Regions from separate parts of the Homo sapiens genome. Here all the other regions are reported to be linked to region 4. Evidence: microRNA targets listed by miRTarBase, many of them from high-throughput screens and not tested one by one. Region 4 holds a microRNA gene; each other region holds the end of a gene's coding sequence.

The links. Region 4 holds the annotated microRNA hsa-miR-4267 (UCCAGCUCGGUGGCAC, at 1,531-1,546, shown strand). A microRNA usually pairs through its seed, bases 2 to 8, with sites in the 3' UTR of a target mRNA and lowers its output. Matches are read on the target gene's strand: a 7mer-m8 pairs with bases 2 to 8, a 7mer-A1 pairs with bases 2 to 7 and ends in A, and an 8mer does both.
Region 1: the mRNA of ELMO1 is a reported target of hsa-miR-4267. Seed matches in the 3' UTR shown: 7mer-m8 at 1,761-1,767.
Region 2: miRTarBase lists ZNF556 as a target of hsa-miR-4267. Seed matches in the 3' UTR shown: 7mer-A1 at 1,831-1,837, 7mer-A1 at 1,492-1,498 and 8mer at 911-918.
Region 3: the mRNA of PHETA1 is a reported target of hsa-miR-4267. Seed matches in the 3' UTR shown: 7mer-m8 at 1,027-1,033.

What each region holds. Positions count from the first base shown.
Region 1 is chr7:36,853,115-36,856,114 of GRCh38, reverse strand. It overlaps ELMO1 (engulfment and cell motility 1), which reads left to right. Exons shown (of 22, transcript NM_014800.11): 22 at 364-3,000. The coding sequence ends at 564. Among named protein-coding and RNA genes, the nearest start is that of MIR1200, 65 kb to the left of the region's middle. RefSeq lists an enhancer at 926-1,427.
Region 2 is chr19:2,877,770-2,880,891 of GRCh38, reverse strand. It overlaps ZNF556 (zinc finger protein 556), which reads right to left. Exons shown (of 4, transcript NM_024967.3): 4 at 1-3,122. The coding sequence ends at 2,563. Among named protein-coding and RNA genes, the nearest start is that of ZNF556, 12 kb to the right of the region's middle.
Region 3 is chr12:111,360,081-111,363,202 of GRCh38, reverse strand. PHETA1 (PH domain containing endocytic trafficking adaptor 1) reads left to right here. Exons shown (of 3, transcript NM_144671.6): 3 at 1-2,524. The coding sequence ends at 525. Among named protein-coding and RNA genes, the nearest start is that of PHETA1, 7.5 kb to the left of the region's middle. RefSeq lists an enhancer at 791-1,447.
Region 4 is chr2:110,068,441-110,071,562 of GRCh38, reverse strand. It overlaps MIR4267 (microRNA 4267), which reads left to right and starts at 1,521; the gene lies at 1,521-1,602.

The DNA of each region.
Region 1 (3,000 bases), not on the chromosome of region 4:
CATAGACTCCCACCTAGGTGTTACATTGCAAGTCATGGAGAACTCCAATCCTCAGCTGTTACAGAGAAGCATTCTTTGCAAAGAAGAGCACAGGCACTGGAGTCAGATTGCCTGGGTTCAAATCCCACCCGGTCTACATAATACTGAGTCACTTCTCTGTACCTCAGTTCCTTCACCTATAAAACAGAGATAACAGAAGTATCGACTTTATATTGAGATGTCGCCAAATATGAAATGACGAAGTAGGCAGAGCCCTTAGCGCACAGCCTACTGAGGGATGAGTATTCACTGTTAGCTATTTTTACTATTAATACTTCTGTAATTGCCACCAGTAATGATCGCTGTTGCCTCCCTTCCTGCCAGTACTGTATCTGGACGGATGGACTGAATGCGCTACTCGGGAAGGACATGATGAGCGACCTGACGCGGAATGACCTGGACACCCTGCTCAGCATGGAAATCAAGCTCCGCCTCCTGGACCTGGAAAACATCCAGATCCCTGACGCACCTCCGCCGATTCCCAAGGAGCCCAGCAACTATGACTTCGTCTATGACTGTAACTGAAGTGGCCGGGCCCAGACATGCCCCTTCCAAAACTGGAACACCTAGCTAACAGGAGAGAGGAATGAAAACACACCCACGCCTTGGAACCGTCCTTTGGTAAAGGGAAGCTGTGGGTCCACATTCCCTTCAGCATCACCTCTAGCCCTGGCAACTTTCAGCCCCTAGCTGGCATCTTGCTCACCGCCCTGATTCTGTTCCTCGGCTCCACTGCTTCAGGTCACTTCCCATGGCTGCAGTCCACTGGTGGGACAAGAGCAAAGCCCACTGCCAGTAAGAAGGCCAAAGGGCCCTTCCATCCTAGCCCTCTGCAGGCATGCCCTTCCTTCCCTTGGGCAGGAAAGCCAGCAGCCCCAGACTGCCCAAAAACTTGCCCACCAGACCAAGGGCAGTGCCCCAAGGCCCCTGTCTGGAGGAAATGGCCTAGCTATTTGATGAGAAGACCAAACCCCACATCCTCCTTTCCCCTCTCTCTAGAATCATCTCGCACCACCAGTTACACTTGAATTAAGATCTGCGCTCAAATCTCCTCCCACCTCTCTCCCTGCTTTTGCCTTGCTCTGTTCCTCTTTGGTCCCAAGAGCAGCAGCCGCAGCCTCCTCGTGATCCTCCCTAGCATAAATTTCCCAAACAGTCCACAGGTCCCATGCCCACTTTGCGTCTGCACTGTGATCGTGACAAATCTTCCCTCCTCACCAGCTAGTCTGGGGTTTCCTCTCCCTGCCCCAGGCCAGAACTGCCTTCTTCATTTCCACCCACGCTCCCAGCCTCTTAGCTGAAAGCACAAATGGTGAAATCAGTAGTCTCGCTCCATCTCTAATAGACTAAACCTAAATGCCTCTAGGACGGACTGTTGCTATCCAAGCGTTTGGTGTTACCTTCTCCTGGGAGGTCCTGCTGCAACTCAAGTTCCACAGGATGGTCAAGCTGTCAGACATCCAAGTTTACATCATTGTAATTATTACTGGTATTTACAATTTGCAAGAGTTTTGGGTTAGTTTTTTTTTTTTTTTTTGCTTTGTTTTTGTACAAAAGAGTCTAACATTTTTTGCCAAACAGATATATATTTAATGAAAAGAAGAGATACATAAATGTGTGAATTTCCAGTTTTTTTTTAATTATTTTAATCCCAAACATCTTCCTGAAAATAACATTCCCTTAAACATGCTGTGGAATAAAATGGATTGTGATGATTTGGGGAGCTGGTGTTTTGATTTAGTAACTTAGGTTCTTGCTACTCAGTCATCAGCATCACCTGGGAGCTTGTTGGAGATGCCAGCTCTTCAGCTCCACCCTAGACCTGCTGAATTGGGTGATGTTTATGTACATTGGTTTGAAAAACACTGCTGTGGGAAACCCTCCACCATTGCTAGGTCACCATAGGCTCTGAGCATCAGTGGAGAATGTTACTTCTAAGAAGACCATCTCGACTCACTGAGAAAATCAGACCCACTGTATGAAAATATCTATTCCTTTTACATTGCTGTCTCTTGACCATGACTTTCTCTTTTTTCTTTCTTACCATGATATAATTTATAGAATGGGTCTAATTAAAGACATCACAACTTTGAGGGAGCACATTTAGCAATGAAAAGAATGCATACCCACAGACCTGAAATAAGCCAGAACTAAATAAATCTAACCGTGGGTTAATAAATTATAGGTCAGAGCCCAGCGAAGGATGTTTCTTAAGTCATTTGCACTGGAGGCATTATCAGGATTGTAAACTCCCAGCACTGGGAGGGATGTCAGAAGGGTCCAAGCATGCAGTATTAAGCGTGGCACAGCACCAGCCACTCTGGCCTCACAGCACAAGCTGTGGAAGCATCCAGGTCATTTCTCTTTACCGTCATCAGGATGTGCAATTACAGATTGACCTGGGTTGAGATGATATGGTCCAGAGCACTGCATGCATTGCAGGAAAAAAGTCCTTTGCATTCACAGGGGTTCCTTCTTCCCATCAGAGCACTCACACCTGTGTCAAGCTGTTAATTCCTTGATCATTAAGCTTCGATGTTATTAACATGTACTTGCTATCAGGAGCAGTTATTAATCTACCCATCATCATGATAAAACAGTAAGTGTTAGGTCAAAGGCAGCAAACAAAGTCATATTATTTTTTTCTTATGGGTTACAAGATCCAATCCATGAAAAAGGGAACTTTCTGGACCAGGATCTCTGAGGTCCTGAGACACTGGGTTTAAGAAATGTATCTGTCCTGTGACCTTGGTTGGGGAGATCCAGCCCCTCTCTCTTCTGGCACTCCAGCTTTGGTGCATTTAATAGAAAGAAACCTTTTCAGGACTATGAAAGGCAGCATTCTCCAGCTCCTCCCTAGACCCTCCTTTGGACCTGTGAGATCTGAAGAGTATGCCATCTGTTTCCATTCATTTTGTGACCATGTGGGGAAGGATTGTTGCCCATATTTGGCCACCTCAC
Region 2 (3,122 bases), not on the chromosome of region 4:
GTCTCAAAAAAAAAAAAAAGAATTTCTTAGACAAAATTATAACAGTATAGGAAACAAATGTACTAGAAAGAAAATGTCTAAATCTGAATGCATCTGGTAATATTAATTCAGAAGTATAATTCTTTTTTTTGAGACGGAGTCTCGCTCTGTCACCCAGGCTGGAGTGCAGTGTCGCAATCTTGGCAAGCTCCGCCTCCCAGGTTCAAGCCATTCTCCTTCCTCAGCCTCCCGAGTAGCTGGGACTACAGGCACCTACCAGCACACCCCACTAATATTTTGTATTTTTAGTAGAGATGGGGTTTCACCGTGTTAGCCAGGATGGTCTCGATCTCTTGACCTCATGATCTGCCCGCCTTGGCCTCCCCAAAGTGCTGGGATTACAGGCGTGAGCCACTGTGCCTGGCCCAGAAGTATCATTTTTAAAGTCACCATGTTGATTTGGCAATTTTCAATATTTTAATACATTCTCCCAGTAAATAAAAAACAGAGATTGACATTTGTTAGTATACAACTTATTTGAAAAACTCAGTTAAATAGGCTATTTCTAAGAAACATTTTATCCATTTGTATAGAATCCAACTTCTTTAAAAACACAAACACAGTAAATAGATATTTCTCAGAAACAGAAACTTTTGTTTTAATAATACATAATCAAACATAATAACTGAACACATACTGAGAGATTGTATTCAGCTCTATGTGACAGGAAATTTCCAGAGTTTACCTGATAAGCCAGTATTGTCTTTCATTTTCTCATGAAAGGTAAGATTTATCTCACGAAGAATACTAGGTCACAGTAGATGCAGTAGGGAAACAATCCCCTGTGCTTTTTTAAAAAATTATTCTTTATTTATTTATTTTTGAGACAGAGTCTCGCTCTTTCGCCCAGGCTGGAGTACAGTGGCACGATTCCAGCTCACTGCAAGCTTCGCCTCCCAGGTTCACGCCATCCTCCTGCCTCAGCCTCCCGAGTAGCTGGGACTACAGGCGCCCGCCACCACACCTGGCTAATTTTTTGTATTTTTAGTAGAGACGGGGTTTCACCATGATAGCCAGGATGGTCTCGATTTCCTGACCTCGTGATCCGCCCACCTCAGCCTCCCAAAGTGCTGGGATTACAGGCGTGAGTCACCGCGCCCAGCCGCAATCCCCTGTGTTTTTATGGTTGTACCATTGTATCTGTCATGGAAGCAGGAACACAGAAGCACAAGAAATACTGAGACAATGAGGTATTAAGATAATGATAATATGGCCAGGCATAGTGGCTCACACCTGTAATCCCAGCACTTTGGGAGGCCAAGGCGGGCAGATTTCAGGAGTTTGAGACCACCCTGGCCAACATGGTGAAACCCCGTCTCTACTAAAAATACAAAAATTAGCTGGACATGGTGGTGCATGCCTATAGTCCCAGCTACTTGGGAGGCTGAGGCAGGAGAATCGCTTGAAACCGGGAGGCGGAAGTTGCAGTGAGCCGAGATCGTGCCGTTGCACTCCAGCTTGGGCAACATAACAGGACTCTGTCTCAAAAAAGAAAAAGAAAAAAAACCCAAAAAAACCTATTTTCCAATTCCAACCCAGAAGCCAGGTCAAAGAGCAAACAGCAACAGATGAAAAAAATAGTTCCCACGAGACTACACTCCTCCAAGAATTTGCATGCATACGTATTTCTACCAACTACCTATTAGTCCACAAGCAAAATGAAGAAGGATTCTCTGACCAATAGCATAAAGCCACTGAATTACTTGCCTGTATAAGTAGAAAGTATTAACATTAAAAATAGTTTTTCCCTGTAAAATGGAAAGGTGGAATAAAAGTAACATGGTAGTAATATCCAGCTTGGAACACACAGGGCCAGTCAGAAAATGTCAACAAACACCCATATTTCATTGGTCTAATGGCCTCACACGGAGTAACAAAAAAAATATATAAAAATTAAAGTTAATGCATATTAAAATACATCAGATCACCCATGGGTGCAATACACTTCTAAATGAAAAGAGAAACATTAGTAATTTATAAGAAAAAACCATTATGTATCAAAATTTCAGTACTATAGGTGAGAGAGGACTTACAGGATTCTCCCCTCAACTTTACCTGCAAGAGAACTGCAAATTCATTTGCTAGAGGCCCACTTTTAGGATGTGGTCCTGATAAAGGCAATACCATATTTATAAACGTCATGAGATTCTTCTCCTGCCATGAATTTTCTTTTTTTGGAGATGGAGTCTCGCTCTGTCACCCAGGCTGGAGTGCAGTGGTGCCATCTCGGCTCACTGCAAGCTCCGCCTCCCGGGTTCACGCCGTTCTCCTGCCTCAGCCTCCTGAGCAGCTGGGACTACAGGTGCCCGCCACCACGCCCGGCTAATTTTTTGTATTTTTTTTTTTTTTAGTAGAGACGGGGTTTCACCATAGCCAGGATGGTCTTGATCTCCTGACCTCGTGATCCGCCTGCCTCGGCCTCCCAAAGTGCTGGGATTACAGGCGTGAGCCACTGCGCCCGGCCCTCCTGCTGTGAATTTTCTGAACCATGTATGTGAATTAATTTGCACAGGTTTTCCCCCATTACTTAGATGTACAGGATTTCTTTCCTGTGTGACTTCTCACATGACCTTGAAAGGCTTTGGGACAACTGAAAGCTTTCCCACATTTTTCGCATTTACTGGGCTTCTGTCCAATCTGCGTTCTTACATTTTTGGAAGAGCAAAGCCCGCCTGAAGGTTTTCCCACACTGGCTGCATTTACAGGTTTCTCCCCAGTGTGCTTTCTCTCATGTTTGTGTAAAGATGAGGACCAACCATACGTTTTCCCACACGTTTCACATTTATAGACTTTCTCTCTAGTTTGTGATTTGACATCTGTGGAGGGGCGAGGCCTCGCGGAAGACTTTCCCACGCTGCCCCCACTCACAGGTTTCTTTTTAGCATGCGTTCTCGCGTGTTTGTGTAAGGATGAGGGCCAACCGAATGCTTTCCCGCATTTTCCACACTTATAGGGTTTCTCCCCGTTGTGAATTCTCACGTGTCGTTGAAAGGATGTTGCCCAGCAGTAGGCTTTCCCACACTGCTTGCACTCATACGGTCTCCCTCCGGCGTGCATGATCATATGGACTCGAAAGGATTTCT
Region 3 (3,122 bases), not on the chromosome of region 4:
GAGTTCGCCTTCGCTGTGCGCTTTGCGGGGACCCGGGCGCGCACCTACGTGCTGGCCGCTGAGAGTCAGGATGCCATGGAGGGCTGGGTCAAGGCCCTGTCGCGTGCCAGCTTCGACTACCTGCGGCTGGTGGTGCGCGAGCTGGAGCAGCAGCTGGCGGCTGTACGTGGCGGGGGTGGCATGGCCCTGCCCCAGCCCCAGCCCCAGTCCCTGCCCTTGCCCCCGTCCCTGCCCTCTGCCCTGGCCCCAGTCCCATCCCTGCCTTCTGCCCCAGCCCCGGTCCCAGCCCTGCCCCTGCCCCGCCGGCCCAGTGCCCTCCCGCCCAAGGAGAATGGCTGCGCTGTCTGGAGCACTGAGGCCACCTTCAGGCCTGGACCCGAGCCCCCTCCACCACCGCCTCGCCGCCGGGCCTCGGCACCCCACGGGCCCCTGGACATGGCCCCCTTCGCCCGGCTGCACGAGTGCTATGGCCAGGAGATCCGGGCCCTGCGTGGCCAGTGGCTCAGCAGCCGGGTCCAGCCCTGAGGCCACCAGGGCGCCTGTTTTAGGGGGACACAAGCTCTATGCCCTCTGGGACAGGCCGGGTCCTGGAGAGACTGGGGGAGCAGATCCTGAGGGAAATCATGGGCAAGGCTGGCCCCCAGGCCCTGAGTGGCCTGGTTTTGGGGGATGCAGGCTCTGAGAAGGTGCTGGATTCTGAGTGGGCCTTTAGGACCATGTGACCCAGAAGGCCTACCCTTGAGGGGAACGTCACGTGCAACACTAAGGAGAATCCAGGGCCTGAGGGGGAGGTTTCCTGAGAACTCCGGCCCCAGGCTGGCCTGAGCTGCCGGGCAGAGGCCTGTGCTGGCAACAGGCATTGCCGGGCCTGCAGCTCAGAGGGTCACTGGGACTGAGGGCGATCTGTGGCCTGAAAAGCAAATGCACAGTTAGTGCAGCTCCTGACCAGGCCTTCAGGGTGGACAGAGGGAGGATCGGTCATGGCAGCCACACCTGGGCCTGGCCTTGCTCCGGGACCTGCCAGAGGAGCTGGCCTGGCTCTGTGCCTGCCTGCCTCCAGGAGCAGGACGGTGGCTGGGAGGGTAGTGACTGGGGACACAGGTGCAGGTGTTAGTGCAGGACCGGAAGGGTGAGGTGGCCTGGTCCTCGGGGCTCCTGGCCTGGGCTGGCTGAGGCAGGACTCTGCCAAAAGTCCCCTGCCAGGCCTCATGGTGGTGCTCCTGGTGGCAGTGGCTCTCTGGCCGCGGGCCCTGTCTGTGTCTCCGTGGTGGCTCTCACAGGGCTCTCCAGACACTCCTTGACTGCATCCTTCAGTCTTGGCCCCTAGGCCTGGGGCCCCTTGGGAGCTTGCCTGACCTCCCTTCCTGGGCTGGGTAGCCATGGCCCGAGGTGACCTTCTAGCAGGTTCCCCCAGGGAGGGGAGGCCACCAGCTGACTCACCGCCTAGGAAGGCCCAGGTGCTGACCTAGTGGCGGAGAAAAAGCCGCACACCGAGTGTGGCTTCCAGAGCCCCTCTTCAGCTCCAGGCAGCCCCCTCTAACATGTCCCCTCCTGAGCTCAGCCCCCACCCCCATACTCCTGGTGGGGACCAGGTCTTGCTTGGCTTCGGGGCTGACCGCCGGTCCCCTTTCTTCTCACCACAGTGCCCATTTTTCATCCAGGGAGAACCTCGGGGCTGGGACACCTCCTGGCCCTCACCCTGGGTCATGTTTACAGTCCTCAGTGCCCCACACCGGTGGCCCCCTGAGGACACCTCCACCCTGACCTTGATTTTCCCAAACGCTGCCTCTTGGTGACAGACTCAGCCCAAAACCCCTTCCTTCTGTCTCTGGAGACCCTTGAGCTTGGGGAAATATGGAGGGGTGTGTGTCTGCAATCAAGGCCTCTGCAGCTCACGGCTGGCCCGGTGGGCTGGGACTTCCGTCTGAATTTTAAATACTTAGGGTTCATTTTTTTTTCTCTGGCAACAAAGCTTGATGTTTTCACTGCTTTAGTTTCCTGTTTGCTGGTGGGAGGGGATACGGTCTGTGACTCTGGACTTGCTCTGGGGGAACAGTTGTCACTGCCCCCGGGGAGAGGGGCAGCTTGGGCTGGAGAAGCACAGCCAGAGACAGAGCCCCTCGAGAGGGATCCTTGGCTGCTTCATTGTCTTCCCCCCAGCAAGCCCTGCTCTCCACAGGCACCTCTGGGGTCTTGGTATGGTCCCCGCTCACCTCCTTCCAGAGTCCTGAGTGGTGTGGGTGTGGGTGGCACAGGATCTGGGGCATGGGAGGGGTTCAGAGCTTCCCAGAGCCCCGTGTCCTGGCAGACTCAGCTGGTGGGCTGGGGTGTTAACCCCAGTCCTGGCGTAGGTTTACAGACTCTCAAGGTACGTTGGCCCTGGTCTCCTGGGAGAGAGGGGTGAGGGATGTCCCCTACCAAAGCACAAGGTGGGATCAGGCTGCCTCCTGGGTTGGGTGTCGGGGGAGCTGTCCGGCAGCCTGGCAGGGAGATGCAAGGGCTAAAGTAAAATTTTGTCAAGTAATGGCTGATTGTGTCATTTTTTTTCCCCATCAAAATCCTTGATTGATTTCCCTGGCAGAGCCCAGAGCAGGCTGTGCAAGGGCAGGGACTAGTGTGTGGTCCCACATGGCTGGTGCCCTGCCAGGCACGTTCTCACTTCTCAAGGCAGATGCTGGTCCCGTTTTACAGATGTGGAAACAGGCTCACTGAGGTTATGAAACTTGCCAAAGCCACATAGCTAGAGAGTATAAGAGCAGGGATGTAAATCTCTGAAATCCCGTGACAGGACAGAGTCTTCAGGAGGAATATGAGGGAAAACGGAGCCCAAAGTTCCTTTTCAGAAGGTAGAGAAGGCAGGGAGAAGCCAAAGATTTGAAAGCTAACTGGGCTGAAGACCTGAGAGTTGGGAGGGACATTAACAATCCTGATCAGGATGGCAGATGGAAGAGTCGAAACTGCGTGCTTCTCACTGATAAGTTCATGGAGGCTGTGGAGGGAGCTGGAGTGAAGAGGATTCTAGCACCAATGCAAGTTCAGAGGGAAAGAGTCTGTGATTGATTAGTAAAATCTGCCGTGAGCACCATGTGGCTGGTAGTGGTGCTCATGCCATGTATCCGCTC
Region 4 (3,122 bases):
CTGTGCCTCAGTTTACTTCTCCATGTACTGAGGGACACAAAGATCCGCTCCAAGGCCCTCCCAGGTCACTACCACCTCCTAGAGAGGGGCAGAGTGTGCCCCTGGGCCACTTTCGTGCAGTGAGAGGGCACATCGTGAGGCCCGAATCAAACCCAGGGCTCCTTCCTTTTATTTTTTATTTATTTATTTTTTCAGACAGGGTCTCACTCTGTTGCAGCGGCTGGTGTGCAGTGGCTAGATCATAGCTCACTGCAGCCTTGGCCTGTGAGGCTCAAGCGATCCTCCCACCTCAGCCTCCCAAGTAGTTGGGACTACAGGTGTGCACCACCCACCTTGCTAATTTTTCGTTTTTTGTGGAGACAGATTTGGCCATGTTGCCCAGGCTAGTCTCAAACTCCTGGGCTCAACCATCTGCCTGCCTTGGCCACTCAAAGTGCTGGGATTACAGGTGTCCGTGCCCTGTCCTGGGGTCCCTTCTGAACGAGGCTCCTTTGGTGTGGATTCAGGAGACACAGATGTGGGAGAAGCTGAGATCTTCCAGGAAGGACACAACCCTGGGAGCACGTGCCTGCTGAGACAGCCATGATGTTTGCTTTCAGCCAAAGCTGGAAGATTTAGTTCTGTTGCACACATGGCTGCTGAGCATCTGCTGGGTGCCTGTTCCTGGGCCAGGGCCTCCTGCTCTCCAGAACCTGGAAGGCTGGGAGCAGAATAAGACAGATCTAGAGGCCTCACGTCTTAGGGTGAGGGGTCACCGGCCCCAGCTGGAAGTGGAGGGGAGGGACTTACTAGAGGCCTCCTAGAAAGTGTGACCTCCCAAAAGTTACTAGAATGATTGCTGGTCAAGCACCTGGACCCTTCTGGTCTACGATCACCCTGGTGGAGCTCTGGAGGATGAAGGGCAGCCTGTGGGGAGAGTCCGCTGGGAACAGCATGAGGAAGGGCACCGGAACAGCAGCAGCCAGCTGGCTGGTGACTGGCGAGAGTCTGGGCCAAGGTCTGGCTCACAAGGATTGGGTGTTCCTGTGACTTCCCACAGGGAATGGGGAGCTCTGGAAGGGGGTAGGGTTTAAGCAGGGAGTGGCAGATCCTTGTGCCTGCACTGGCTACCGGGGAGGGTGACGACTGCAGGGAGGTGACCTGAGTCTCTTTGAGAGCTGTGTCCTTCTCAAGGACTTTGTGTACTTTGAATTCCCTAAGAACTAAACATTGCCATTTTGGGTCAACATCGTGATATATATTCTATCATTATACTTTTTATTAGGCTTAGTAACTATTATAATAGCAGTGTTCTCATGGAGCCTCGGAGGATCAAAGCCCTTGCACGGATGTTTTCTCCATGGCCATTGGGATGTCTACTTGTCAGCAGATTGGCAGATATTCGATGACACCCTCACAGTCCCCCAGGGAGTGATGACTTCTGGATGAGGTTGGCACTAGGGCTGCCATCTCAGAACCCAGAGTAGGCCCAGGGGTGGTATCTCCGAAGGAGCCGAGGATTCTCCGTGATGACTTGCAAACTCAGCAGGCTCCAGCTCGGTGGCACTGGGGGAAGGCTCCAGACCCCAGCCTCTGTCATCCCTGCATGGAGCCCACATCTCCAAGGAGGCTGGGAGATCCTGTTTGGGGGTCAATTTAAATGTGAAGGAGCAGAATACAGAGAGTTTGGGAACCCAAGGAGGGGACAAAAGACAGAATCAGGACCCAGTCTTAAATACGCTCAGATTGCTGGGCACCTCCTCATGACAGGCTGGGCCCTGGGTACTGGATGCTAGGATGAATGAGAAATGGCCTCTGCCCTTGAGGGGCTCACAGACACCAGAAAAGACAAACCAGGAGAGTCAGAAAAAGGAAGAGCAAGGTGCTGGGGAACTGAGCCCCGAACCCCATTTCCCACTCTTACTACCCATGCCCCCTGCATGTGACATGGCCAGAATTTGTCCCTGCCTTGTGCCTTTAACTGTGGGGAATCCTGGAATTTTCTAGAAATCCAATTTCACAGAATGAAAGTTTTTCTTTTTCAGAGGTGATCCACTAAAACTTTAACTTAATTTCATTTTATGCTTCTTTAAAATTCGTTGATGTAAATAACTTACAAATCAAAAAAAGCCAAATTTGGTTTTGGAAATTACAGCCTGCACAGTTCACACATATGTGTGCACACATGCACAGGCACACACACAAAAGGTGCTGCCCACCGTGGGAGCTCAGCCTGAACTCGCACATGTGGATACATGTGCTTGGGCTCAGACCCCAAGCAAAGGCCAGAAGAACAGCTGTCGCTCTGTGAGAATTGGCTGGAAGCTGCAGGGAACACCTGTAGGAGCTGTTGGGGAGCCCTCCTGCCTCTGGCCACCTGTGTTGGGGTAGGTCAGGTAAGGAGTGATGGAGAAAGGTGGAGCGATGGTGGACAGGACGGGCGCTTCTCCAAGCATAGCCTGCTGCTTTCTTACTGCTTCCCCTGGGCTCATTTCAAAGGTGCCTGCAGTAGCACAGCCCAGTTGGTCACTGGGTCCCATTTCCCTGGGATGAAGATTTGGGCCCAGCTCAGCTGAGGGAACACGGAGGGTGAGGGAAAGGACATGAAGTGGGACTCAGGATGTGCCAGGCACGTGACATCTGGTCCTTCCACCCCCCCACGGACCTGGGCAGGGTTCCTCACCCGCCTGGGCTCAGAGAGGTCAGGCTGCCAGCCCACAGCTCACAGGGTGGGTGACTGAGGAGGTTGCATTCTGGCTTAGATCTGACATGCCGAAGTGCCATGGCCTGTGCTACCAAGAGGAAGGTTCAGAGGAGCCAGGGCTCTTCCCCTGACCTCACAGGCTACTGCGTCCTCAGACAGCTTGTGTGACAAATGGGTAATATTTCCCATGCATTTGGGAAGAGGGCAAGATCAGCAAGATTTCCCCGAATAGCATCCACCTTGGGGAACCACTCTCTGCCAAAAAAAAAAAAAAAAAAAAAAAAAAAAAAAAAAAAATTGTATTGTATTCTATGCATTTCATGACATGTAAAAGGTTGGGAAGTAAATAAAATATAAGAAGGTTCTACTATGTGCCAAGGCTGCTTCTGTTTTTATTTTTTGGCTCCACTCCTGCCCAAGTGCAGTCACAACACTCAAG